Homo sapiens: one gene and its partners. The protein of the gene in region 1 interacts with the protein of each later gene in a pairwise test. Each region holds a gene or a part of one and is shown in the gene's direction. Other genes may lie near its edges.

Region 1 (7,408 bases):
GAAAGAATCTATCAAATAGTCTTCTGACTGCACTTATTTATCAAGCCATGAAATTAAAATAAAAATATATGATTTCAGGACATTCATAAGTATTTATGACTTAAGATTAGTAGAAATGGTGAACGTCATTTTAAAGTGTTAGTATCGGCAAGTCTGTGTGGTCTGCAGGATCCTCAATTCTTGCCTTCTCAGAAGAAAGAATTCGACTGAGGGGCATAAGGCAGAGTGAGAAACCGAGGCAAGTTTTAGAGCAGGAGTGAAAGTGTATTAAAAAGTTTTAGAGCAGGAACAAAAGGAAGTAAAGTACACTTGGAAGAGGGCCAAGTGGGCGACTTGCGAGATCAAGTGCACTGTTTGACCTTTGACTTCGGGTTTTATGCGTTGGCATACTTCCCGGGTGTTGTGTGCCTTCTACCCTGATTCTTCTCTTGGGGTGGGCTGTTTGCATGTGCCATGGTCTGCCAGCACTTGAGAGGGGCCACATGTGCAGTGTTTACTGGAGTTGTATGCATGCTCACTTGAGGCGTTCTTCCCTTACCAGCCAAGTGTTCCTAGAAGAAGGTTAGATGACAGTTAAACTGTGCCATTTTGCCTTAGTCCACATGCTTGAGCCCACTCACCTAAGTCCTGAGATGTCATCAGGAAGCTGCTGATCACCAGCTTCGGTGTTTCTGTCTATTGGGAGACCACTTTTTCTGGTGCCAGCTGTGACCAATTATTATTGTAGACGGACAGTTTAACAACTGCCTGACCATCACCTGACGGTCTCCTGGCATGCCTGGTGGGGAAGGCCCTCTTCTGCCCTGCTCATGTCTGACTAGCTACCTACTGTAACAAAAATAAGGAAAACACGTAGGAGATAAAAGTGTATCAAGGGAAAAGGGCATAACTCAATAATTGTTCTAAATTATCCTAAAGTTCTAAAGACCAGCCCCAAAATGCCTCAGAGCTAAAACCCCTCTGAAACCCCCTCCTTAGCAAAAATTCTTAACTTTTTACACCTAGAAATATTTCTTAAGAATTAAGATGTATTTCTTAATACATCTCCAAATTTATAATCAATCAAAGAAATACCAACCGCTGTTTACAGATATTCCCTAAATAAGAGACATGAATGAAATCCATCTGAAGTGGCTACTGCTGTCTGTGGTATATACCCTGGGGTTCATTGTCATGCACTGAGAAAGAATTCGGCACACAGACACAGGTGAGTGGGTTAAGGAGCAGAAAGTGTAATAGAAGAAAGGAGAGAGGAGGGGAGAGCAGCTCCTCACGAGCAAGAGACACGTGGAAAAGGGAGAAGGTAGAGGACCGCAGCAGATTTTATACGCAGGCTGGAGAAGGCGGTGTCTGATTTACAGAGGGCTCACAGGTTGGTTCACTCAGGTATGATGTCTACATAGTGTGCTGGGAAGGCTAGTTGCCCCACCCTAATCTTCTTATGCAAATGGACTTTCCAGTTGATTGGCACCATCTTGTCTGCTCGTTTACAGTACACGTGGCTAACAGAGACGGGAAGATGGGACCGCCATATTTAACATCTTTAGTCCTTAGTTCCTGCCCGCATTCACCTGTGCAAGCTCCCAGCTTGCAGGCTGCTTGCTCTCTTAGAAAATTATTTGGGGCTGATTTTCATTAAAAAGAAAAGCCTTACCTAGGACTCCCATACCCTTACTATCTGCCTAAGTAATTGCTTCTTAACTCCTATATCACATTCAGTACACTGGAAGTACAAATGTAAAATAGAATAATTTTAACACTTATCTCTTGATACTCTTTAAGATGTCCTTTTATAGACAAAATAAATTTTTTAAAATTTATGTTCCCATCTCTGCATTTTAAATATATTGTTTATCTGTGGTAGGGTTTTTGTGGAGAAAGCAGGCAGGGGAGTGAAACTGAAAAAGAACTAGGTCTCTTAATAGTTAGACCCACAACAGCTAAGGTCTTAAATCTAAAACAAGTACTGGCCCAAGGGTGGAGACCAAAAACTCCCAACCATCTTAGTTCTGGTGTCAGCCTGTCTAAGGCAAGGCCAGATCTACACATGGGCCAAGAAGATAGAATGGTTTATAAATTGCCGCAATCAATGACAGAGAAAAACAAGATTACCCAAAACAAATGACAGCCCGTCAAGATAATTCAGTTTGTTAATTTTACTAGCTAATAAGTCTCCATTACAGCTTTATATGTGGGAGACAAACCAGTCTCATCTGTATGACATAATCAATCAATTATAAAAGTCACTGTGAGATTTGGAGCACTGATTTACCCTGAAAGATCTTCTCCCCCAGGCCTTGCCTTCACCTGAAATCATAAAATAGATATATAAGTGAGATTTCAGACAAGCTAAACACAATGTAGTTTGAGAGACCAGGCTCTCAGGAGCTCAGAGGAGCCACAATTTGCAGCTCTGAAGCACAGCTCGCCTGATTTTCAGATGTGGCTGCAGTCTCTTAGTTACACCCATGCAGATCACTTTATCAGAACTCTACGGAATAAATGAATGAATTCAGTTAAGCCAATTGCTCTTGTCTCTGGTGTTTATCAAATCCCAGGCTGTGTTAATGGGATCCATCTCATTCAACACGTGCTCTTATGCCATTCACAAAGTGCTATTGCCCACATCACCCCGGCAGCTGTTTCAAGTAGGGGAGTTTTCAAAGTATTTGAAGGAGACAAATAGGTTACTTCCAACTCTTGACTTTCTTATTTAGTCTAATATCTTGTAAGAAAGATACTTTGTGAAATCATTCTACTGGTAAAAGTATATATCATCAAAATTAGCAGGCATACCCATAGCAGCTTCACAGATTAAACAGAATGCCCTTTACACAACTATAGTCAACATGGGTTGTTCTTTTAATGTTCTAAGGCTGTGTCCACCGAAATCCTGCATCTTGCATTTGTATTCCTGGTCTCTCAGGGATTATTTGGTTCAGTTGTTCTTTGTTTATTTGTAACACTATCACTAGATCCAGCAGGCATTGTGGAGCACGTATTACACATACTACAGATATTACACATACTCATATCTTCTGTATATGGGATATATGACTCAGAAGTAATAGCAAGTCAGATTACAACCTCTTAGGGAAAATCAACAGCAAATACAAGCTCACAGGCCGTGTGTACGGTTGACTTTTACATGACTTTGGATGCAAATTGACACAAACACCTCTCCATATTACAGTCATTTTTAGAGGGCAGACAGCATTCTTGAGGGGACCTGAATTGCTAGGTAATTAAAATGTATGTATGTAGAATAAAATAATCTTGGAAATAAGAGGTTTCCGTAAGCCTTCTCTCTAAAATAAGGTCACCTTCTTTGAGGTAGAGATTCTGTGCCTTGTGGAAGGAAAGCCACTTCATAAAGCAGCACAAGAATAGCCAGTTATTGAAAGGGCCATTATAAAATTACTAGCCAATGGTATTCGCTACTCTTACAATTTGTCAATCCATTCATCCCTAGGAAAAAGACAGCATAAAAGAGAGTTCTGTTCATAGGTAGAAGCAATTTATGGGAAGACTTTGGAAATGTAGAACCATTGTTTTTGATGACCATAAGAAAAAGAGGGGGTGCAAGAGGGGAGCACTATGAGGGGCCCCTGGAATAACAGCACAAAGCAAGTTAGATTCAAAGAGTGGAGTAGACCTTTGTCTAAGGGGCTTATCCTGACAAATTCAACTTTGAAGGCAGCCTGGGTCATTCTTGGAAAAGGCCATTCTTTGTCTCCAGTGACCCCAGAGACATCATATAAGGATGGGGTGATGATGCAGCAGCCGGGACCAGGTCCCAGTTGCAGTGGACAGGACAGAAGGGACTGAATGGGGCAGCAGGCTGGGGCGCCACCAGGTGCAAGCAAAGCTCAGGGATAGGGCCCCTCCCCTCCGTCCCGGCCGCTCGCTGCGCCCCCTCTGGGCGGTGCAGGCTCCGGCTCCCGCGCCGGGGCTGCCTCTCACGGATTTCAGCCCGGTGGGAGGCAGTGCCCAGAGCCTCTTTTTCCTTATCTCACAAAACCCTAAAAGCCGAACCCCTACAACCAGCAGACAAAACTGCTCCCCGAGCTTCGGCTCTTTCCTGCTTTCCAGGCGTTTCTCCGGGAATAACTTACTTAGTGGCACTGGGAGAAAGGTTGGGACTGGGGGGTCGGGGACCGAAACCCAAAAGATTCCCCCAGCATGGAGCACCCACGTTTCCAGTGGCGGGGGATGCACGTTGGTTTGTGCCCAGCCCGCCCCCACCAAGCCCGGTCCTCGACGCGCTGACACGCTAGCTGGCATGGGCGGCGGGGTGGGCGTCTCTGGGTCTGTGGCTCTGTCCTGCTCGCCCCCGCCCCTTCCTCCCGGACCGCGCCGGCGCTGTGCGGCTTTTTCCCCAGCACGCGGCGCTGCACTCGCTTTTATCTCGGAGCCGCGTCGCTTCGTGCGCTGCCAGCGGGGCTCAGCCAGTCGGCTGGAATTGAGTAGCATTCATTGAATCTGCGGATTTCATGACGTCTCTCTGCGTGGTCCACCACTTTTCTCCTAACCGGGGATTTTTTTTTTCTTCTGCCACTCTTATCTTTCCCCACTTCATTCCACCCAGTCTCCCTCCCCCGTCCCTGCCCAAACGCGCGCCCCTCCGCCCCTCCCTTGGCCCCAGCGCCCAGCCCTGCTCTCCGCGCTCGGCCAGAGGGAGCCAGTCCGGAGACGGCCGCACCTGGCTGGAGAGGCTGGGCGGGCGGAGGGGTGGAGACCCGCGGACGCCGGGAAGCCGGACCTGGAGCCGGAGCAGCCGCGAGCAGAATGGAGTCTCCTAACAGCCTCTCGGTGCTGATGTGAAATTTGACCATCTGATTCCAGTTTTTTTCTTTTCCTTTTCTTTTTTGCATTTCCTTCCCTCGCCATCCGTCGTGTAGTGAATTGTTCAGTCTTGCTCCGTTTCAAGAGAGGAGATCATGATTGAGTGAAGCCACCCCGTCCGCAGCCAGGTAAGCGGTGCGCTGAGCTGCTCGCAGGCGAGGAGCTGGCGTCCACCTGGGCGAGGCGTTCCGTGCTCTCGGGTCCCCGCGTCCCCTTCCCCAGCTCCGCCGTCGCCGCAGGCATCTCCACTCTCATGAGAAACATTGTGCCCAAGTCAGCCGAAAGGCGAGGGAGAAGCCGGTTACATAACAGAAGGGGAATCTGTTTCATACGGTTTTCATTAGCGACTGAAACTCGCACGGGGGGCGGGGGAAGGAGGGGTCTGCATCCCTGGGCTCGCAGAAACCCAGTCAGTTATTGCAGACATCATTTCAACATCCGCTGGCAAAGACTTAAATGCACTGATTAACTGACAGGTGCGGCTTGTGATGTAGTCATTTACAGTTGGGAAAAGCCTATTGTCTTTGTGGAAGGCAGTCTTCTTGTTCTGCTTTGCATGGAGAGGAGAGGAGACAACACGAAAGGGAGGAAAAGTGAGGGTTGGGGAGAAACATGCGGAGAATGGGAAACAGAATACTGTAACTCCTAACTGTTCTCTATCCTTAAAACCGAAGATGTGCTAGCATGACTAAAAACAGTGAATAGGAAGATCTTCCTAGGAGTAAACTGAATTATTTTGTAATTGGAAGGGAAGAAAAAACACTTTAGATAAAATGAGATGTGTGTGGCATTTAGAGGACTGGGTGGCTGTGGATATTTGCTTCCCTGTGGATATATTTTCATTTTCATCAAAACATTAAGCTTGGATTAGTTTTTAAGTGAAATAACATCAGTATTCCCAAAACCCAATAAAAGCCCAGTGGATCCACAGGTACATCTGTTGTACTAGGTGCAATATGGAGAGATTGTCAGGGGGAAAATATATCTTAATAGAAACAGCCACAGAGGGTGAGGTTAGTGGAGAAACAAAATACCAGAATTTTCCAAAGAATTCCGCCTCCAACCCCCAAAAAAAGGAAGAGAAAAAAAAAAAAACCCCACAACTCCAGTGTTTGGGAGTTGGAGATGTATTATATGTTTAGAGTGTTTCCCAACTGCTGTTATCCAAAGTCTGTCGGTCCCGGGGAGCCCTACGGTACAGGGAGCAATGCCACATCCTGCTAGCCCTGTTCCCTGCCTGCCTTTCTTTTGCTGAAAAAAAGAAACGGAAAAGGGTGATGCCCAGGAACTGCTTAGGGAGAAAAAAGGGCTTGCTACAGTCAGGGCTGAGCTAACTGAGCTTCGCCCATTTTGCCTGGAGAAAGAAAAAGAGCTCGAGTCTCCATGGCGACCCAGGTGGGAGGGGAGACCGCAGCTCCAGTTATAGGGGAAAAAAATTGGACAAAACTTTCCCGGCTCCAGGCAAAGGAATACGCCAGCCGCGTGCCCTGTGGCGGGTCCCAGGGCATCGGTTGTGCCCAACTCCCTGACGGCGACGCTCGAGAGGGCGCCCAGAGCTGGCCGGGTGCCCCTGAAACCTCCCGAAAGTTGCCTGGGGGCCGCCGAGGTGGTGGTTCCTCAGCGGGTTCCGGATTCAGCACCAAGGCCAGAGCCCAGGCGCCGAGGGTGAAGCCTCACCTGTCTGCAGCCCCCAGCAAGCAGTACCCACTCCTTTGGTCGCTGGAGGTCAATCACTTTCTATAAATAAATGAGTCTTTGGCTCGTGCAGAATCTGGATATCAAATTACCCACGGAATTACGTGAGGCAAAGAAGCTTGCAAATCATCCATTTTATGCATGGCGGTGCATCAGAGGACCTATTCAGAATCAAGAACACTGGGACAGGGAAAGACCTGAGCTGAACTGAGAGTGGAGACAGGATTCTGTCCTCAGGGGGAGAAAAAGGACGCGCGCGCGCACAGACACACACACACACACACACACACACACACACACACACACACCCCGATCCGCCTCTGACGAGGGTTGCTAGTTTCAGCTGAGTCCCTTTGGCTTTCAAAAGCATGCATCCCTTGCCCTCTCACGCTCTTCTCTTTAACTTTTTGTTGGGCATAGATGGCAGAAGGGAGCTGTGGAAGCACCCTGGTCAGCGAGAGGCCAGCCAACCAAGTTTGTTATTTCTTTCTTTCTTTTTTAGACGGAGTCTCGCTGTGTCACCCAGGCTAGAGTGCAGTGGCTCGATCTCGGCTCACTGCAACCTCTGCGTCCCGGTTTCAAGCGATTCTCCTACCTCAGCCTCCTGAGTAGCTGGGATTACAGGCGCACACCACAACACCTGGCTAATTTTTGTATTTTTAGTAGAGACGGGGTTTCACCATGTTGGTCAGGCTGGTCTCGAACTCATGACGTTGTGATCCGCCTGCCTCAGCCTCCCAGAGTGCTGGGATTACAGGCGTGAGCCACCGTATCCGGCCCAGCCAAATTCTTTCTAAGGGTCCTAGGACTGAAGAGGGTGGAGATATAGTTTCCTCTCGGTCTAGAACTGGAAGGAATCAAAACAACA
Region 2 (6,864 bases), on another chromosome or scaffold:
CAACTTGATGGGAACCTAAGCACTGAATAGGGCAGTTAGATTTCCCACAGTTCCCTCCAACCCTGGAGTCTAAGATGCTTTGAGTTTGGAAAGGGCAGGGGGATAGGCAGGTCTGGGTGGTGCCAAACATGACTCTTTTTTTTTTTTTTTTTTTTTTTGGAGACAGAGTTTCGCGCTTGTTGCCCAGACTGGAGTGCAATGGTGCGATCTCTACTCACTGCAACCTCTGCCTCCCTGGTTCAAGCGATTCTCCTGCCTCAGCCTCCCAAGTAGCTGGGATTACAGGCATGCGTCGCCACGCCCTGCTAATTTTGTATTTTTAGTAGAGATGGGGTTTCTCCATATTGGTCAGGCTGATCTTGAATTTACAACCTCAGGTGATCCGCCCCCCTCCGTCTCCCAAAGTGCTGGGATTACAGGCATGAGCCACCACTCCCAGCCCAAACAAGACTCTTAATGAGATGTGGTTCCTGCCCTAAGGGAGCTCACAGTCCATCCAAGAGTCATTTTGGTCTGAGAAGCGCTGTAAGAGGTTGCCGAGGAATTTATGGGAGGGACGCTGCGGATCAGGGTCCCCTCTTGGGGAAGGCGAGTATTTGATCAGAGCTGTGATGGGCAGGAATTATTCAGGAAGGGAAGGGCAGGCAAGGGCATTTCAGGCAGGGGCTGCCATGCAGGCAAGTGCTCGGTGGCTGTGAGAAACACTTGCTACATTTGTCAGACTACAAGGATCTGGGCACTGCTGGAATGGAGCTGGGATTGTTGGGGTATAAGTGGTGAGAGGCAGGCCGGAGGGGCAGCAGGAGCCAGGTCATGTGTGATCTTGGGTGCTAAGCTGGGGAGTTAAAATTTGATCCGGAGGGCAACAGAGAGTCAGGGAAGCCTCAGGCAGGAGGGAGGTGGGCAGAACTGTCCATGCTGGTTGCAGAGTGGAGATGAATGGCTTGGCGTGGCAGAAGGCAGAAGTGAGGACGCAGTCACTGGGATCAGGGCAAGAGAGGAAGGGTGTCAGTGTGGGGGACAAGGCAGGATTGGATGGATGAGACAGAAATGTTGGAATGTAAGCTCCCATGGCAGGGGCTTTATTTTGTCTGCTGCCGAATTCCAGCACCTGAAACAGCGCTGGCACATGGTAAGACATCAGGTGGGAGGAGGCAGCGTGCTGCTCCAAGACTGTGTGAAGGAAGCCCTTGGATGGAGGAGTCACTGGGGAGAAAGGGAGCATAGAGCAACAGGGAGGGGTCAGGGCTAAAGCTGAGCACAAGGATGTTTATTACCACCTTGCAATAAACAACGCTGGACAAGAAAGAAATGAGCCAAATGTCCAACTACAAGGGATGCTGATTGATTTTCAGATCCTCTATGCTGTGCCAGCCATTGAATGAGTAGATGATGAGATGGTGACTGCAAGTTGGGATGAACAGATGTTCCTGATAATTTGTTAGGTGACAAAGGCAAGTTACAGACTGGCACGTGTCATATGGGGGGCACGCAGACCTGGATCTCGGAGAGGCCCGGGTGGGTGGGGGTAGGGATAGGAGATGTTGCAGAACAGGTGGCAGCTGGAGCCAAGGACAGGGATGACACCACCGGGAAATTGCCAAACCTGGGACTGCAGCCGTGCTTGGAGACAGGTGCAGGGGGAGCCTAAGGGGAGGCCTGTCACCCGGGGCACCCCAGCCGAGTCAGCGGAGCCTCTCGGCCCTTGGGGTCATCTCCTGTCATCTAACCCAGCAGAAGTACTCTGATTCTAAATTCTGGGACTCTCAGGTCATTTAAATTCCACTGAGTACCCCAGTACCCTGCCCTCTCCTGGAGTCATACAGTGTTGGCACACGCTGAGCAGGGTCCAATGGCCTCATAGTGCCCTCCTGGTTACCCCTGGCCTGCCACTCTCCAAAGTATTCTCCCTCTGGCCTGGATCATTTTCCCTTTGGGAACCCAGGTGTCCTGCCCCCTCTACTTGGGAAAGTCTGGGAGTGAAAATAGCTCAGGGAGGGAGGGGCCCTGAGTGCCCAACGGGCTGGGCCTGGGTAGCAGCTGCCCCTGTGCCCCTCTTTGGCGCCCCCGAGGTGCTGCCTCAGCACTAAGTGTCCATCTGGCTGGAGAGTCAGGTTACAGCGTAAGGGGACCCAGGTCTCCCCTCCTCCCCGACCTATGGCCTTTTCAGCAGACTCAGGGCCCCATGCCTGGGGTATCTTGGGAAAGAATGGGGGTAGGGAAAAGGGTAAAGATCCTCAGGTTGCGGGGGTCCTGATGTCTGACAGTCTGTGATGTGGGGCCTGTCTGTGCTCTTTCTGGGCTTCAGTTTCTTCAATTGTTAAATGAGATACAGCGACTATGGACCCCACCCTGGAGACGAGGTGGGGTGGGGTCTGAGAGGACCCTTCTCACTACCCCCACACTCCCAAGTCCACTAGTTGCCTGACTGCAAGCCTTCAGGGTGGGGTCTGGGAATATTTAACTAGAAGAAGATTCTTCTTTCTGAACCCCCCCTAACTTGGATCTCCTGGGGTTTGCCCAGCCTGTTTTCAGCAGCAGAAGTGGGGCAGTGGGCCCAGGGGAATGAACCCTGGTGGGGGTGGGGAGCCCAGAAACTCTCTTGTCATTTTAAACCCCTCTTGAGGGCTCCCAGCCCTCTCCTCCAGCCCTGGGGACAGCAGGCAGCTGATGGGCAGAGCCTGGGCTGGGGATTAGCACTCTAGGTTAAAGACAAGCTCTGCCCCTGCACTGCTGAGATGCCCAGGACAAACAGCCCGGCCTCTCAGGCCTCGGTTTTGCTGTCAGGAAATGGGCGAGCACTCACTTTCCGCTGCTGCTTCTCCCAGGCCGGGTCCAGCAGCAGGTCGCGGTCCCAGTCCTCCTCCTGTTCCATGTACTCGCCGCCCCCGCCGCCGCCCGCAAAGCGCCCCTCCCCGGCCCCCAGACCCTCGGGCTGCATAACCATCATCATCTCGATCGGGCTCCTGGCTTCGCTCCGCTCGGCACGCTCTCGGACACCCGGGCCCCATTAAGTAGGGCCCAGCCCAGCCCCAGATCGAATTCGCACTAAATATGGGGGAGGAGGGAGGGGCCGGATGGGGGTGAAGGAGCTCGGGTTGGACCTGGCAAGGGGTTGTCCTGAAGCCGGGAACTGCGGGACTCGGGGGCGCCGGGGTGGATCTCGCGGCGGAGATCCTGGGTTTGCATTCCTGCTCCGCTGCTGGGGCGCTGTGTGACCTTGAGAAATCCACGGGACCTCTCTGAGTCTGTTTACTCCTCTCCACAATAGAAAGGCCGATAATAATAGTGGCCGCGGGCCGCTCTAGAGGCTGCCCTCTGGAGCTCCTCGTGAGCCTCTTCCAGCACCTCGCTGGTGGGACACAGAGCCCTATCCCCATTTCACAGTCAGGAACACAGAGGCGCCGAGCTGTTTTGCATGTTTTCTGGGGTGATGGAGACACCCGGGCATGGGGAACGGCTCTGAGCCAGCTGGATGGGCTGCGGCAGGGCTATTAATATCGGGGCGGCTGTGGGGAGTAGGGGAGAATGTGCTGAGCCGGGAAACCCCGACACCACCCCGGCTGCAACTCAATCCCCCGGGCACTCCTGGCCCCCGCGCCAGCGGGCGGGGCTCCGACGGGATGGGAGGAGCCTCCAGGGTGGGCGGGTCAATCACTCCGCGGCGTTATCCGGGCTCCAGCGCCGCGGGATTCCGAGCGCCTCCACTGCTGGTCCGTTGGCCAGATCAACTCGCCGCGTGGGCCGGCCGTTCCCTGAGAGTCTGAGCGCTCGCCGCACCCCCTTCCGAGCTTCTATTGGCCGTAGCAGACGTCCGTCTGCCGCTATCTCCGCCCCAATACGGAAGCGGCCTAGTCCTCCGGCTCCGACAGCTGGGTGTCCAGGCCATGGGGCAGCCCTGGGCGGCTGGGAGCACGGACGGGGCGCCCGCGCAGCTGCCTCTCGTGCTCACCGCGCTGTGGGCCGCGGCCGTGGGCCTGGAGCTGGCTTACGTGCTGGTGCTCGGTCCCGGGCCGCCGCCGCTGGGACCCCTGGCCCGGGCCTTGCAGCTGGCGCTGGCCGCCTTCCAGCTGCTCAACCTGCTGGGCAACGTGGGGCTCTTCCTGCGCTCGGATCCCAGCATCCGTGGCGTGATGCTGGCCGGCCGCGGTCTGGGCCAGGGCTGGGCGTGAGTGGGGTGCGGGATCGGGCGGGGAGAAGTGGGAGCCTTGGACAGGGGGGAGGGGCCCCAAGACCTGAGATGTTAGAACCGGGTTACATTAGGATCCAGGTTGTTAGAATCAGACATTTTTTTAGAACCTGGGATGGAAGAGCTAGAATTGAGTGTTATTTATTTACTCGCAAATACTTATTGGGAGCCTACTAGGTGCAAGGTTTTGTTACAGGGACGAAGGGTACAATAGAACAAATTCCTGATTTGAGGGGGGTGCAGATGAGAAACTAGAGGAATAATAAGCAAATCATATAGAATGCTAGAAGGTGATAGTAGTTTGGAAACAAGAAGTAGAGCAGGGTAAAGGGGTTGCAAGTTTCAATATTAAATAGGTGGTTAGGCCGGGTGCGTTGGCTCACATCTGTAATCCCAGCACTTTGGGAGGCCGAGGCCGGCGGATCACTTAAGGTCAGAAGTTTACCAGCCTAGCCAACGTGGTGAAACCCCGTCTCTACTAAAAATATAAAAAAATTAGTCGGGCATGGCGGCACGTGCCTGTAATCTCAGCTACTGGGGAGGCTGAGGCAAGAGAATTGTTTGAACCTGGGAGGCGGAGGTTGCAGTGAGCCGAGATCGAGCCACTGCACTCCAGCCTGGGTGACAGAGCAAGACTCCCTCCGTCTCAAATAAATAAATACATAAATAAACAGGTGGTAAATTCTCATCACAAAAATATGAGTGTTTGAGGTAATGGCTATCCTAATTAGCTTGATTTATTCCAAGCTGTACTGATAAATCATAACATCACTTGGTATCCCATAAGTATATACAACTGGAATTTGTCAATTTATAATTAGAAAAAAAAATTACACCAGGTACAGGCTCTACACACACATTTTATGCCAGGCAGAGGCTTTTGCTGAGACTGAGGCTGTAGTGTGCTATGATCACACCTGTGAACAACCACTACACTCCAGCCTGGGTAATGTAGCGAGACTCTGTCCCTAAAAATTTTTTTTAATTAATTTTTAAAATAATATACATAAATGTGTGGTCAAGGTAGACCTCATAGAGAAGGAGGCATTTGAGCAAAAAACTTGGAGGGCGTGGGGGGCGGTTAGCCATGTGGGAATCTGAGGGAAAGGTGTTCCAGGCAGAGGTAACAAGTGGTGCAAAGGCTCTGAGGCAGTTGTGTACCCAGCATGTATGTTCCCAGAACAGCAAGAAGGCCAGTGTGGCTGGAGTGCAGTAAGAGAGGGGAAGAGATGTCACAGATAGAAGGATGTTGTAGGACACTGAAGGCTTTGCTTTTTACTAGAAATAAATTGGAGAACCACAGGAGGGTTTTAAGCAGAGGAGGGTCAGTTTGGTTGCTGGGGTGAGACCGTACGAGGTGGGGCAAAGGTGGAATCGGAGACCAGTCAAGAGGCTATTGCAGTAATCCAGAGAGTTCCTAGTGACCTGGACAAAGGGGTGACCGTGGAGGAAGGGAGGGATTTGCTGCTGGATGTCAGTGGCTTGAGAGAGGTCTCAGGACTGGGGATGTTAGGGCTGGAAGAGACCTCAGACCTGTAGTGCTAGAACTAGAAGGGCCTGGGACATCTTGTTTAGCCTGCATTTACTTGTAAAGAAATTGAGGCTTAGCCAGGGCAAATGGCTGTTGCCACTTCCGCAGGATGGGCTCTGGGGCAGCCCTGTGCACAATATGGGGCATCTGAGCTGCTGGGGGAACTGACGCTGTGGTTCCTTCCTGCAGTTACTGCTACCAATGCCAAAGCCAGGTGCCGCCACGCAGCGGACACTGCTCTGCCTGCCGCGTCTGCATCCTGCGTCGGGACCACCACTGCCGCCTGCTGGGCCGCTGCGTGGGCTTCGGCAACTACCGGCCCTTCCTGTGCCTGCTGCTTCATGCCGCCGGCGTCCTGCTCCACGTCTCTGTGCTGCTGGGCCCTGCACTGTCGGCCCTGCTGCGAGCCCACACGCCCCTCCACATGGCTGCCCTCCTCCTGCTTCCCTGGCTCATGTTGCTCACAGGTGGGGAGCCTGGGAGGCCTCTGCACAGAGGCAGGGGCCCTGGTATTGGGCTGGGGAGTACAGCCCATTCTGGTGGGAGACGGGCTTTCTGGCCTGGGGGACCCAGCCCCAGTGTCAGTGATGGCCAGTAAGGGCAGCTTGGTATTCACCCGGGGGTGCAGTATGGAAACTGGTGTGTTGAGACAAGTGCAGCGTTCTGGCTGGAGAATTGGGAGATTCCTGGAGTTGTTGAGAGAGGAGAAAGACTCGTGGGAGTCTCTGCATGGCGGGATGTGGAAGTGCATTCTAGGAGCATTTCTAAGTGAGAGAAGCAATAGGAACAAAGGCTTGGAGAGTGGGCAGGGAATTGTGAGAATTAAGGCCAGATTGGTAGGGGAGGCCTGGCTGGTGGGGTCCTGAGAACTGGTGTGAGGAGATGGCTCCTATTTGACTGGACAGTGGGGAGCCAGTGAAAGTGACAGGCAGGAGAAGGCCCAGTTATGGGAAGCTGGGGAGGGCAGACTTGGATCAGCAGGCTGCCTGAGATGCCATGTTCTAGACGACACATATGTTCCTCTTCCCCCATCTACAGATAGAAGCCTCGCTGGTCCTTTTTACTCTTTGTTCTCTACCCCCAGAATGCTTTGGCCTTTCTCGCCCCCATTCCTTCCTCCTGACCTTTCCATGGTTCCCTCTGT
Region 3 (7,386 bases), on another chromosome or scaffold:
GGTCCCCTGCCGCCTCCCCATTCCCACCCCTTTATGTCATCGCTTTTCCCTTGTGGCAAAATGATCACAGCACCCCACTGCACACCCCTTGTCAGGCACAGGCCTGCAGTGCAGGAGGCCATACGGGCTGGGTCCTCCCCAGTCCCAGGGCCTCCTTCCGTCCCCTCATGAGTATCTCCAGGCCAGATGGGGTGGGTGAGGGTACAGATGGGTCAGGCCTTGTCTGCCTTGTGAAGGGCCTTATTTGAATTCCCCATGAGTGCGAAACCACTCCCAGAGATGGGCAGGAGCTCTCCCAGGTGTGACCCTGGCCCCGAGTGCCCCCTTCAAGGCTGTCCTTGAGTAACCATCCTGCCATCCCAAGAGCTGCGACAACTTGCACTGTGGGCTCCTCCTTCCTGTGTGGGACCCTGGGGCCTAGGCCCCCCCCCCCCGCCCGCCCCGGGGGTCTCCCCTCCTTGACCATTCAGGTTCAAGCTTCTCTCTGTGCAGATATGTCCCAGCCCAGCCCTGCACCCGCGGGAGGTGCTGTTGAGAGCCCAGCTGTGCCCGGCCCCCCGGCCAGAGTTCTGGCCCCAGGTCCCTGCTCACATCCTCTTCTCCCTGTAGGGGCACCACCACAGTGGACGGCGCTGGCTTCGGCATTGACCGGCCGGCGGAGCTCTCCAAGGAGGACGACGAGTATGAGGCGTTCCGCAAGAGGATGATGCTGGCCTACCGCTTCCGGCCCAACCCCCTGGTACGCATGTCCTCCTGGGCTGCCTTTGCTCAGTCGACAGGAGAGGGTGGTGGTAGGAACAGAAGGCTCCCTTCCTTCCTCAGTCCAGCCAGGCTGGGTCTCACCAGCGAGCCCCCTACCACCCACCTGCATTCAAGCCCCCACCCGTCCCCCAAGCCTGCCCTGCCACCTCAAGGGTGCGGGCTCAGCTGCCTCCGGAAGGTTCCAGACAGGAGGAACTGCTGTCTTTAGTGCTAATCCCCTCCTCCTGTTATCTGTTTTGCCTTCCACAGAACAATCCCAGACGGCCTTACTACTGAGTGTTCTGGAAATACATACTTTCTGAATGACCAACCGTCCCTGGACTGTGGAATGTTCCGGCCTGCATTTCTGCCCACCCCTTCCGTTGTCACGAGTGCCGTGCCGTGTAATAAAGTCCCAGTGCTCATCCACCACAGATGCCTGGTCCTGTTGCAGGAAGCCCCTCCTGTTAGCAGCGGGATGCAAGATGCTGTCTCGGGGCTCTCCTTATTGGCCTGTGGAGTCTCCATCCCCGCTCAGCCTGGGTTGCACTGGAGGGGAGGAAGAAAGTTGTTTTCAGCATAGTAAAGCTGGAAGGCCAGGTGCAGTGTCTCACCCCTGTCATCCCAGCACTTTGAGAGGCCAAGGCGGGCGGATCACTGGAGGTCAGGAGTTTAAGACCAGCCTGGCCAACATGGTGAAATCCTGTCTCTACTAAAAATATAAAATTAGCTGGGCATGGTGGTGCACACCTGTCGTCTCAGCTACTCGGGAGGCAGAGGCAGGAGAATGGCTTGAACCTGGGAAGCGGTTGCAGTGAGCCAAGATTGCGCCTTTGCACTCCAGCCTGGGCAAGAGAGCAAGACTCTGTCTCAAATAATAATAATAATAATAAAGCTGGAGACTTGGCCACACCTGGGCTAAAGGAATGTCAGGAACCTCCGAGCCTAGCACTGTGCTGCAGAGGGAGGTTGGGGAGGGGTCTCCAGGCAGGGCCCCACCTTCCCTCAGACCTGTGGGGGCAGGTGGCTTCTGGGCACACCCATGTGCTCTCCTGGCAGGTGGTGCTGGCACGGCCCAGCACACAGGTGTTGGCTGTGGCCCTTCAGGTCCCACCAGTGTGGTAGGCACACGAGTCCCTGGGGCTTGTGTCGTTAGGGGACAGCCGCATGGATGCATGGATGTGCCATGCCAACATGTCAGGCAGCTCCTAGAAGGAAGGGCCTCAGAGCCGGAGGTTTTGAGGCAGGAGGGTAGCCCAGGCCACAGTGTGTGCCAAGACCCCCACATCTGCCCCAGGGCCAGAGCCCCACATTTGTGCCTAAGTCACCCTGGGGATCTTGTTAAGCTGCAGCTGCCGAGTCAGCTGGTTGGGCAGGGCCCTGGGAATTTGCATTTCCATCTGCCCCCACCCCCTCCACACACACCCAGTGGGTGCTGCCCAGCCCCTGCAGGCACCAGGGGCTCCCTATTCACATGCTTGGCATGGAGTCGGGCTCCTGGGCCAGCTTGTGTTCACACAGCCATTCAGCAAACACTAGGTGCCAAGTGTGGGGACCAGGTGGACAAGATCTACTCCAGTCAGCCAGGCTGCTGGGGATGAGGTCTGAGGCTGCTACTGAGAGGAACCAGGGAGCCGTGGTGGGGCGGTCTGCAGAGTGTCTCAGTGGGGTCTGAGACCAGGGAGGTGCCAGATGCAGTGGCAGAGCCAAGGCTGGGGTGATATACCACCCTTTGTTCTTTCCTGACGCTGTGGCTGAGGCAGAGCAAAGAGTAACATTGGTGGGCTTGGCCTGGGTGCCCATGAATGAGGGCTGCCCAGAAGGCAGTGGGCCAGGACCCTGAGCACAGCGGGGTAGTTCTCTGCAGCCAGTGGTTCAGGGAATCCTGGCACTGGGTCCCAGGCATTCAGCCATCCAAGTCACTTCTCAGTTCTCAGCAACCTGGAGGCTCACCAGGCTCAGGGCATGGACTTTACCCCTTGCCAGGGGACGAGGCCTCCAAGTGCTGTGTGCGTGTGCAGGTGCATCCTGTACACGGGACAAGGCCAAGCCCCTAGGCTGAGCTGGGCACAGGCACCCTGGCCTTGTGTGGAGAAGGTGGGGTGGGGGTGGCAGGCAGGGCTGCCTGGAGGAGGGGATGCTGGGGCCCGCTTACAAGAAGGCTCATTTTACAGACAGAAAGCAGGCCTGGGGGGTGTTGACCCTGCTAGAGTTGGGGAAAGTCCAGGGGAACCTGAACTTCACCCATGGGCAGTGGACACCTGGGGAAGGAGGCTGAGTCAGACCTGCGGCCAGAAGACCCTCTTGTGGCCCAGTTCAGGAAGACCTGTGACCCAGTTGGCATCAAGCTAAGGGGCTGCGTGCAGAATGGGGCCTGAGGTAGGGGCAGTGGTTAGAATTTGTGCCAGCTGCAGACTGGGGTCCCGCAGGGCAGGCGTCAGGTGGGCATGGTTCACCTTGCTGTCTGCAGCATCCACAAGTACTCCACATGGGCCAGAGTCTGGTTGGAGGGGGTGACAAAGACAGATGGTCTCCTTATTCTCCCCCCCAATACTGTGGCCCCCTCCCAGCTGTTCAAAACCTCCCACAGCCTCTCACAGCTGTCTCGCTTCTCATCACACCCCAGCAGAACCGACCTCCTTTCCACTGCTCAGTTCCAAGCCTGAGCCACTTTCCTCCCTGCCAGGAACACCGTTCCCAAACTCTTCACCAAACTGGCTCCATCCCGATATTCTAACTTCAGCCCCCACCCGCTAGGACCCCTTCTACCCTCTCCCCGAAATGAAGAACCCTAAACCCGGGACTAGCCTGCAAAGGGACAGCCCCGGAGTCAAAGCCTCACACTTAAAGACCCCTCGCAGTGGCTCACGCCTGTAATCCCAGCTCCTCGGGAGGCTGATGTGGGAGGATCTGTTGAGCCCAGGAGTTTGAAACCAGTCTGGGCAAAAAAGTGAGACCTCTGTCTTTACAAAAAATAACTAGCTGCGCGTGGTGGTGCATACCTGTAGTCCCAACTACTTGGGAGGCTGAGGTAGGAGGATCTCTTGAGGCTGGGAGTTCAAGGAGGAGGGCCACTGCACTCCAGTCTGGGCCACAGAGTGAGACCTCTCAAAAAACAAACAAAAAAACTTCACACCTGCCTGGAAACACGTTTACATTTGTGGCCACCTTATGAAAACTCAAATCTAAGCCCACTGAAAGGCATTTTGCACCCAAGAGCTGGAGGTTGCTCCATCCGTGCGCACAGGGAATGCCGACTTGATCTTTGGGTGGGGATGGGAAACTCTGGGGAATGCAGAGGTTTAGAAGCGCAGAGTCCAGGAGAAAATTTCCTTAGAACGAAGTTGTGGAGGCAGGGGAAAGAGGGGGCACGCCAGGACCTCCAGGGCGCACCCCTTGGCCTAAGAGCAGAAGCATCCCGAGGTGTTGTGTCCCAGCCTTTGACAGTGAGGGAAACTGAGGCTGAGTAGCGGGACGGCCATTGGAGACGAGGGTGTCGATGGTGAGGGGCGAAGGGGCGGGGCAGCTGCCAGGGGGAGGGCCGGGGAGGGGCCTTGGAGGCTCCCTGGGAACACGCAGGGCGGTCACGGCGGCCTGCCCAGGGCGCAGCGGGGTCGACCTTTGTGCGGGGCGGGTCCCTGGCAGCCTCGGCCCGGACTCGCCGCCAACGAGGAGCCGAGCGCCCTGGAGAACGCGTCGGGGCTGAGCCGGGGTCCAGCAGCCGCCGCTATGGACATCCCGCCGCTGGCCGGCAAGATCGCGGCGCTGTCGCTGAGCGCCCTCCCGGTGTCCTACGCGCTCAACCACGTCTCGGCGCTCTCGCAGTGCGTGCGGAGAGGGGCCAGGGCGGCCTTGGGGACAGTGGGGGCGGGCGGGGGCGGGGAGGACTGGAGGTGGGCTGGAGGGAGGATGCGCGGTCCGCGGACCTGGCTTCTGCGAGCCCTGCGCCCCAGCTCAGCTCCGACCCGGCAGGATTGGGGTGGGCCAGAAGAACACCCCCCTCTAACCGGAAGTCCCCTTCCCGCCGGGCTGGAGGCTGGGATGCGGCCGCTCCTGGGATGTTTGTGGCCTGGGAAGAAGGAATGATGAGTCCCCACAAGCCAGAGCTTTGGAGGGTTTCTGGGGTTTTCCCAGGGATGCGCCCTGCCTAGGTTCCAAAGTCACCAAGGGTAAAAGTATTGTCCCAGATAAGGCCCCGGGTACCTGACTCCTGCTCACACACACACACACACACACACACACACACACACACCCTACTCCATTGCCTGTCTCAGGCCTGTGACTTTCCTCTTGTTCAGGGCTGGCTAACCATGTCCCTAGACTCAGTTCCCCCTACTGGTTCCCTTTCCTGGTCCCTGTCTCCTAACCCTAGATCCTAGCCCTGTGGGTCCAGCCACCGGATAGTGGGCATCTGCAAGCCCCTCGTACTTCTAAACCCAGCTCAACCCAAGCCATGGGGTGGAGAGAGTCTTAACCATGAGCCTGGCTCCCTGGGTGGGAATACCCATCTCCATCTCCTGGGATCCTGGGTGAGCCAAGTTCCTCTGGGAGCCTCAGTTCCCTCATCAGTGTAATGGGCACGATCCTAGATCTCATCTCATAGTTACGGTTAAGGATTATAAACTGTGTACAAAGATTTGTCTTGGTCTCATCTGAGTACTATAATGTCATTGTTAGATGGGGTCAGGATGGAAATCTTGGGTTCTGAGGGGATCATGAGAAAATAGGGGCCTGGAGAGTGATGGACAGAGTCTTGAGTGTGACCCTGGACAACTGGACAGTACTCCCATCCTCTCTGGGCCTGGATTTGCCCACCTGGGTTGAGGGCTGCCCAGAGACCTGGCTTCTGTTATCTATGCAACTGGTTGACCTGTCTTATCAGGTTGTGGGTGCAGATCAGGGCAGGGGTAGGGTGGAGTTAATAGAGGCATTTGGACTTTAGCTGGGAGGAGCTGGGAGCGTCAGACAATGAAGTCTACAGAACTGAGCACTCGAGACCCTGTGGCTTGGGAGCTGGGCCTGGCCACAGAGGGGCTTGACGTTGTCGAATGACTGAACAGACTGAGTCAAACACATAACAAATGATGGGATAAATGGTAAAGTCAGAAGGGGCAGGCCAGGCGTGGTGGCTCATGCCTGTAATCCTAGCACTTTGGGAGGCCGAGGTGGGCAAATCACCTGAGGTCAGGAGTTCGAGACCAGCCTGGCCAACATGGTGAAACCCCGTCTCTACTAAAAATACAAAAATTAGCCGGGTGTGGTGGTGGGCACCTGTAATCCCAGCTACTTGGGAGGCTGAGGCAGGATAATCGCCTGAACCCAGAAGGCAGAGGTTGCAGTGAGCCAAGATTGCACCACTGCACTCCAGCCTGGGTGTCAGTGCTCTGTCTCAAAAAGAAAGAGAGAGAGAGAGAGAAAGAAAGAAAAAGAAAAAAAGAAAGAAAGAGAAAAGAAAAGAGAAAAAGAAACAGGCTGATGAATATCCCCTCTGTAGCTAGCCCGAGTTAAACAGTGATCCTTTCTGGGGAGTCAGGGAGCGCTTCATGGAGGAAGAACAATGTGGATGGGCCATGAAGGATGAGTAGGAGTTTGCCAAGTGGAAAAGACTTCTGGAAGCGGTTTCCAGAAGGAAGAAACAGCCTGAGCAAGGGCCTGGCACAGGGTGAGAGCAGTTTCAGGGAACAGCATTGATGGATGAACAGACACTTTAGTCTCTTCCCCTGGGGCTTCCAGGAGTCTGCCCCTTCCCCCACCAGGGAGAGTGGGGCGATGCCTCAGCACTGGGCCTGGCCTCCCTGACTTGGCTTCCCTCTCCACAGCCCCCTGTGGGTGGCATTGATGAGCGCCCTAATCCTGGGTCTGCTTTTCGTGGCGGTCTACAGCTTGTCCCATGGCGAGGTCTCCTATGACCCACTCTATGCTGGTGAGTCAGTGGGAAGCTGTGGGGAAGAAGACTGTCCAGGCAAGGGCCTCCACCCTCAGACTTGGGGGCCATTAAGGGGCCTCCTCCATCAGACTGGGGGCCCTTTAAGAGCTCCCATCAGACTGGAGACCTCAAAGAGATTTGAACACTCCCATTAAACTGGGGAACCTCAAAGAGCCTCCCCCTTCAGAGCTGGGGCTCCTAAGAACAGGGACTGCATCTCCTGCATCAGATTAGAAGCTCCTGAAAAAGAGTATACTGCCTCATCACTTTGAGATCTCCTGAGGGCAGGGACGGTGCCTCTCCCATGAGACTGGGGACTCCCAAAGGCAGGCACTGGGCCTCTGAATCAAACCAGGGACTTCTGAGAGCCAGGCTGTGTCTCCTCCATCAGACATGCAGAATGAGGCAGGACTGTGGTCATGCAACCTTTGGGGTTGGGGCAGGGACTGGGCCTGGAGTCCTTGCCTGGAATAATCTCATCCCTGACCTTAACTTCAAGCCCCGCCCACACTAAGCCCTAGCCCCACCCACACGTGTCCCCTCCCACACCTGACCCGGCCCGCCCACTCACTGCAGTCTTCGCTGTCTTCGCCTTCACCTCGGTTGTGGACCTCATCATCGCTCTTCAGGAAGACAGCTATGTGGTGGGCTTCATGGAGTTCTACACCAAGGAGGTACTTGGGGGACGACCAGGGAGCCCCCTACCGCACTGCCCGTCT
Region 4 (7,022 bases), on another chromosome or scaffold:
GAGGTAGGTGCAGCTGTAGCCCGGGGGCTGCCCTGGTTCTGAGGGACAGAAGTCCAACTCAAAACAGGCTGAAGCAGAGAATGGAAATCTCAGTGGAAAAAGACAGGACTGGGAGTTGCTTCAGGCATCACTGGATCCAGGAGTCAAAGGGTGTTTTGGGGCATGTATTTTTCCCTCTAAATTCTGCCTTCCTCTGGATTGGTGTCACTCTCAGGGTGACTGTCCCCTTCACCAGCAGTGCCAGGCTTATATTCTCCAGCCTTGCTTCCTGCCGGCTGTGCCACCCTGGCTGAAGGAGAGTGTCTCTCTTTTTTTTTTTTTTTTTTTCTTGAAATGGAGTCTTTCACTCTGTTGCCCAGGCTGGAGTGCCATGGCATGATTTCGGCTCACTGCAACCTCTGTCTCCTGGGTTCAAGCGATTCTCCTGCCTCAGCCTCCTGAGTAGCTGTGATTACAGGCATGAGCCACTGTGCCTGGCCGAGAGTTTCTCGTTCCCAGTACTTCAGCCGACATTCTGGGTTCAGTCCTCATTGGCTGGGATTGGTTGAATGCCCATTTGTGAACCAATCACTGAGAAGCTGCTTGGGCAGCGCCATGCCGTGTGCTAAGTCTGTGGCCCTGGGCGGTGGAGGGATGGCCACATGGGTGATGGGAGAAGAAGATAAGTAGTTTCCCGGGTGAAAGTTGGGTGCTGTTATAGGAAGGTGCCCTGCCGGACAAGTAAGCAGGCAGCGTCCTTTTGTGGGTGTGGGGTGCCCTCCCCACTGGGGTTGCTGGTGTAGTGGCCACTAGGCTGCCATCCCTGGTGGAGATGTGCTTGAGCTCATAGCTTAGTTCAGTTCCCAAGGCCTGGATCGTGTTCATTTCCTGACACTCATGGTCTCCAGGTCTGGGAAGTCCCCTCCTGCCTGGTATGTGAAGGGGCCCAGTGGATGCCGTGACCCCATTGTCAGGCAGGGAAACTGAGGCTCCAAGTGACTTGTCCCAGGTCACTTAGCTGGGCCTCCATTTTAGAATCTGGGACTCCTGGTCAACTCTTTCCTTGTGGACAATTTTGGAGGAAGGTCCTGATTATAGCTCTCAGTGTGGCTGGCCATTTTGGAAATGGAGGCCCGCAACTAAGGGGTAGAGAGTGTGGATGGCCCTGTGCAAACACGTCACCAGATGTGGCTTTGGAAAAACACATCTTGGTAATGGCAGGGCTCAGAGTCTAGAGTTTCTTCAGATTCTCAGTGATTGCTTCACAGATGGGCACATGGCGAACCCCAGCACTATTGATGGGTCTTTGTGGGGGCCGTGCAGTGCACTGTGGGATAGTGAGTAGCATCCCTGGCCTCTGCCCACTGATGCCAGTAGCACTCCTGCCCCAGGTGTGTCCACCAAGATCTCTCCAGGCATTGCCAGCTGTCCTCAGTTGAGAAGTGCTGGGTTAGAAGGTTGACCCGTGAGTTAGGGTCTTAGACCAAGGACCCCTGTCATTCTGAGATGTGTCTGCTGACTTGTTTTCTGGTTTTGAGAGTTCCGTGTTACCAAAGAATAACAGACCATGATTGGTCGACTGCTTATGCTTTCAGGTGCCTTTTTGTCTGTCTCTTGGTCATCTGTAGGTTATTCCTTTATTTCTATTTTTTAAAATTATTTTCATTCATTCATTCATTCATTCAGAGATGAAGTCTCGCTCTGTTGCCCAGGCTGGGGTGCAGTGGTGCAATCTCGGCTCACTGCAACCTCTGCCTCCCGGGTTCAAGCAATTCTTCCTGTCTCAGCCTCCCGAGTAGCTGGGATTACAGGTGCCCGCCACCACGCCCAGCTAATTTTTGTACTTTTACTAGAGACAGGGTTTCACCATGTTGGCCAGGCTGGTCTCAAATTCCTGACCTTAAGTGATCATCCTGCCTCGGCCTCCCAAAGTGCTGAGATTACAGGTGTGAGCCACCATGCCTGGCCTTACTTTTTTTGAGATAGTGTCTTGCTCTGTCACCCAGGCTGGAGTGCAGTGGCGCAATCACGGCTCACCACAGCCTTGATCTCCTGGGCTCAAGCGATCCTCCCACCTTAGCCTCATGAATACTAGGACTACATGCATGTACCACCATGCTTGGTTGTTGTTTTTTGTTATTGTTGTTGTTGTTTTTGAGATGGAGTTTTGCTCTGTCACCCAGGCTGGAATGCAGTGGTGCTATCTTGGCTCACTGAACCTCTGCCTCCCGGGTTCAAGTGATTCTCCTGCCTCAGCCTCCCAAGTAGCTGGGATTATAGGGGCCTGCCACCACACCCAGCTGATTTTTATATTTTCAGTAGAGACAGGGTTTTGCCATTTTGGCCAGGCTGGTCTCGAACTCCTGACTTCAGGTGATCTGCCCACTTCAGTTTCCCAAAGTGCTGGGATTACAGGCATGAGCCACCACACCCAGCCCCTGGTTGTTTTCTTAAACCGCCCCCCCACTTTTTTTTTTTTTTGAGACAGAGTTTCGCTCTTGTTGCCCAGGCTGGAGTGCAATGGTGCGATCTTGGCTCACTGCAACCTCTGCCTCCCGGGTTCAAGCGATTCTCCTGCCTCAGCCTCCCGAGTAGCTGGGATTACAGGCATGCACCACCATGCCCAGCTAATTTTGTATTTTTAGTAGAGACGGGGTTTCTCCATATTGGTCATGCTGGTCTTGAACTCCCAACCTCAGGTGATCGGCCCACCTCAGCCTCCCAACGTATTGGGATTACAGGCTTGAGCCACTGCACCCGGCCTTGGTTGTTTTCTTTAATTAATTTTTTATAGAGACGGGGTCTTGCTATGTTAGTCAGGCTGGTCTCAAACTCATGGCCTCAAGTGATCCTCCTGCCCTGGCCTCCCAAAGTGCTGGGATCATAGGCGTATGTGCTGGGACTATAACATCATGCCTGCTAGCTATTTCTTTAGAAAAATGAGAAGAAGGCCGGGCGTGGTGGCTCACGCCGGTAATCCCAACACTTTGGGAGGCCGAGGCAGGCAGATCATGAGGTCAGGAGATCGAGACCATCCTGGCTAACATGGTGAAACCCCATCTCTTCTAAAAATACAAAAAAAAAATTAGCTGGGCGTGGTGGCAGGCACCTGTAATCCCAGCTACTTGGGAGGCTGAGGCAGGAGAATGGCGTGAACCCAGGAGGCGGAGCTTGCAGCGAGCCGAGATGGCGCCACTGCACTCCAGCCTGGGCGACAGAGCAAGACTCTGTCTCAAAAAAAAAAAGAAAAGAAAAGAAAAATGAGAAGAAAAATAGTATTGTCAGTAATTATCCCTTGAGCTCATACTATCAAGTATTATTCTAGATGCTCTATGCTGTACTTACTCATTTAATCCTCACCAGGCTATTGTCTGTGAGGTAGGCTTGAGGTTATCCCGGCTTTTCAGGTATGGAAAATAAGGCAGAGAGGTTTAAGGACTTTCTGAAAGTCACAAGACTACCTGGGAGGCAGCATCACTCCTCCAACCCCGAGAGTTGAGATGGGGAACTGCGGTTGCGAGAGGCACTGGGGTAGAAGGTGGGAGGCTGGGGTAGAAGGCGGGAGGCTGGGGTAGAAGGCGGGAGGCACTGGGGTAGAAGGCGGGAGGCTGGGGTAAAAGGCGGGAGGCTGGGGTAGAAGGCGGGAGGCTGGGGTAGAAGGCGGGAGGCTGGGGTAGAAGGCGGGAGGCTGGGGTAGAAGGCGGGAGGCTGGGGTAGAAGGCGGGAGGCTGGGGTAGAAGGCGGGAGGCTGGGGTAGAAGGCGGGAGGCTGGGGTAGAAGGCGGGAGGCTGGGGTAGAAGGCGGGAGGCTGGGGTAGAAGGCGGGAGGCTGGGGTAGAAGGCGGGAGGCACTGGGGTAGAAGGCGGGAGGCTGGGGTAGAAGGCGGGAGGCTGGGGTAGAAGGCGGGAGGCTGGGGTAGAAGGCGGGAGGCTGGGGTAGAAGGCGGGAGGCTGGGGTAGAAGGCGGGAGGCTGGGGTAGAAGGCGGGAGGCTGGGGTAGAAGGCGGGAGGCTGGGGTAGAAGGCGGGAGGCTGGGGTAGAAGGCGGGAGGCTGGGGTAGAAGGCGGGAGGCTGGGGTAGAAGGCGGGAGGCTGGGGTAGAAGGCGGGAGGCTGGGGTAGAAGGCGGGAGGCTGGGGTAGAAGGTGGGAGGCACTGGGGTAGAAGGTGGGAGGCTGGGGTAGAAGGTGGGAGGCACTGGGGTAGAAGGTGGGAGGCTGGGGTAGAAGGTGGGAGGCACTGGGGTAGAAGGTGGGAGGCTGGGGTAGAAGGTGGGAGGCACTGGGGTAGAAGGTGGGAGGCTGGGGTAGAAGGTGGGAGGCACTGGGGTAGAAGGTGGGAGGCTGGGGTAGAAGGTGGGAGGCACTGGGGTAGAAGGTGGGAGGCTGGGGTAGAAGGTGGGAGGCTGGGGTAGAAGGTGGGAGGCTGGGGTAGAAGGTGGGAGGCACTGGGGTAGAAGGTGGGAGGCTGGGGTAGAAGGTGGGAGGCTGGGGTAGAAGGTAGGAGGCACTGGGGTAGAAGGTGGGAGGCTGGGGCCCGGGGAGTCCATAGCCCTCCTCCCTCTGAGTGACGCCCCTTCCCCTGTGCCTGCATCTCTGTCCGCAGGTGCAAACGCCATGCCAGTCGGGAGGAGGCGGAGCTCGTTCAGCAGATGGCAGCGAACATCAAGGAGCGGCAGGACGTCTTCTTCGACATGGAGGCCTACCTGCCCAAGAAGAACGGGTAGGAGCTGGCAACCTCCCCACCCCTAGCACAGGCCCATGCCCAGGCCTAGCACAGCTGGTCCATATAACTCTCGCCTTCCTGCTGGTGCTCAGATTGAAGGGGAAAGAGGGAAACAAGGGCAGGAGAGATAAGGAGCCTTCCTTACACATTCCTCCATGAGCCCAGGAGGGGACCTTAGCCACACCGTGTGACAGCAGCATTCCTGGGAGGTCCGTTGCAAGGAACCAGCACTCACTGCATGCCTGCTGACACCTGGGGTTAAGAGGGAAACTGTCCTCTCCCAGGAGAACAAACATGCATTGCGTGCCTCCTGCACGCTCAGAGCTGTGCCGGGACCTCCTGTGATGTCACCTGGTTTATCCTCAACAATCTGTGCGTCAGACCAAGAGATGCCCATTTTTACAAGATTCAGAGACATCAGCGAATGTTTGGCCACACCAGGATGTGAACAGCAGACATTCTGACTCCAAAGCCCACGTTCTTTGTATTTTCCCCCTTCAGAGAAGTCCCCGTTCCCTCCCTTAAGTGATGTCATTGCCACCTTGTTCTGGAGAGAGAGAGCTGCTTACAGCCTCATATCATCATGACCTGACTTAACGCTGCTGAGCACAGTCAGTTCACCCTGACCCTGTTTTCCGGATCAGCCTCGCGCTGAGTCAGAGCCGTGCATTAGGAGGAGGGGCTCCTTTCAGGCCTGTAGCGGGTGGGAGGGAGCTGGCTAGCCCTGTTATATTTTAACCCATTCCTCCGAGCTTCTCCTTTTTGACTGTGTTCGAATAGACCCCATGAGTTAAGTGATGATCATTTTCTGCAGAATGAGCAGCAGCCTAGCATTCGTGACCCTCTTACAGTGTCATGCGTGTCTGCCTTCCTGCCCCTCTGTCCCTAGGCCTCTGTGCCTCTTAACCTCAGTTGGGAATCTTTGGATTGCAAACGATAGAAAACCCAACTCAAGGCCGGGCGCGGTGGCTTGTGCCTGTCATCCCAGCACTTCGGGAGGCCGAGGTGGGAGGATCACTTGAGCCCAGGAATTCAAGACCAGCCTGGACAACATTGTGAGACCACATCTCTACAAAACTTTAACAAAATTGGTGTGCTGGTGTGTACCCATAATCCCAGCTACTTTGGCGACTGAGGTGGGAGGACTACTTGAGCCTAGAGGTTCAAGACTGCAGTGACGCTGGGCACAGTGGCTCATGCCTGTAATCCCAGCACTTTGGGAGACGGAGGCAGGTGGATCACTTAAGGTTAGGAGTTCAAGACCAGCCTGGCCAACATGGTGAAACCCCTAAACCTACTAAAAATACAAAAATTAGCTGGCCTGGTGGCACGTGCCTGTAATCCCAGCTACTTGGGAGGCTGAGGCAGCAGAATTGCTTGAACCCAGGAGGTGGAGGTTATAGCGAGTCCTGATCGTGCCACTGCAGTCCAGTCTGGGTGACAGACCGAGACTCTGTCTCAAAAAAAAAAAAAAACAAAAAACACTGCAGTGAGCTATGATCATACCATTGCACTCTAGCCTGGGCAACAGAGTGAGACCCTGTCTCTAAAAATAATAACAATGATAATAATAATAATAATGAAAAATAAAGAAAATTCTTTAAAAATTGACCTAGAGGTTGTACCTTTGCCTCCACCTCATTGGCTATGCTTAGTCACCTGCTCACATCTGGCTGCAAGGCAGGCTTAGAAATACGGTCTCTAGGGTAGCATGGAGGAGAAATCGACTCCTCACACTGTCCTGTCACAGGTTAATGTCCTTTGGTTAGTTGTCATTCTCACTCGATGTGGGGGCCCATTTGCCCGCTGAGCTTAGGCCCCCTATCTTCTAACATCAGTGCTTGGGATGTGCTCATTAAGTGTGTTGAGTTTGAATGTTGTTGATTCGCACCCACCTGCTAAGGATCATGCCCCTCACAGGTGTTTCCTTCCAGGCTCTACTTGAACCTGGTCCTCGGCAATGTGAACGTGACCCTCCTCAGCAACCAGGCCAAGTAAGTGTCCCCCACCCACCACCCAGACCCACACCTCACACCGCCCCCACACCCACACCCACACCCCAAACCCCACACTGAGAACCCACACCCCACATCCACACCCACACCAACACCCCACACCTCAAACCCACACCCACACTCCACACCAACACCCCACCCACACCAACACCAACACCAACACCACACCCACACCCCACACTGCGAACCCACACCCACACCCACACCCACACCCCACACCACACACTCAAAACCCACACCCCATGCCAACACCCCACCCACACCCTACACCCACACCCCATACTCACACCCCACACTCCACACTCA

What was found.
Region 2: the proteins of KCNJ6 (region 1) and ZDHHC24 interact in binary tests that used the Homo sapiens proteins (3 or more experiments, as listed by UniProt).
Region 3: the proteins of KCNJ6 (region 1) and TM6SF2 interact in binary tests that used the Homo sapiens proteins (3 or more experiments, as listed by UniProt).
Region 4: the proteins of KCNJ6 (region 1) and TMEM120B interact in binary tests that used the Homo sapiens proteins (3 or more experiments, as listed by UniProt).

The regions. Positions count from the first base shown.
Region 1 is NC_000021.9:37,913,449-37,920,856, reverse strand, and holds the start of KCNJ6 (G protein-activated inward rectifier potassium channel 2), read left to right. Parts: upstream 1-4,399; 5' UTR 4,400-4,973; intron 4,974-7,408. UniProt on the Homo sapiens protein: Inward rectifier potassium channels are characterized by a greater tendency to allow potassium to flow into the cell rather than out of it.
Region 2 is NC_000011.10:66,543,027-66,549,890, reverse strand, and holds the start of ZDHHC24 (probable palmitoyltransferase ZDHHC24), read left to right. Parts: upstream 1-3,842; 5' UTR 3,843-3,887; coding exon 3,888-4,168; intron 4,169-5,909; coding exon 5,910-6,187; intron 6,188-6,758; coding exon of another isoform or gene 6,759-6,864. Other genes in the region: ACTN3 (alpha-actinin-3), read right to left, coding at 3,105-3,380. UniProt on the Homo sapiens protein: Probable palmitoyltransferase that could catalyze the addition of palmitate onto various protein substrates.
Region 3 is NC_000019.10:19,270,300-19,277,685, reverse strand, and holds the start of TM6SF2 (transmembrane 6 superfamily member 2), read left to right. Parts: upstream 1-4,384; 5' UTR 4,385-4,470; coding exon 4,471-4,565; intron 4,566-6,560; coding exon 6,561-6,664; intron 6,665-7,243; coding exon 7,244-7,341; intron 7,342-7,386. Other genes in the region: SUGP1 (SURP and G-patch domain-containing protein 1), read left to right, coding at 610-739, 1,012-1,038. UniProt on the Homo sapiens protein: Regulator of liver fat metabolism influencing triglyceride secretion and hepatic lipid droplet content. May function as sterol isomerase.
Region 4 is NC_000012.12:121,743,745-121,750,766, forward strand, and holds part of TMEM120B (transmembrane protein 120B), read left to right. Parts: coding exon 1-3; intron 4-4,581; coding exon 4,582-4,698; intron 4,699-6,635; coding exon 6,636-6,695; intron 6,696-7,022. UniProt on the Homo sapiens protein: Necessary for efficient adipogenesis. Does not show ion channel activity.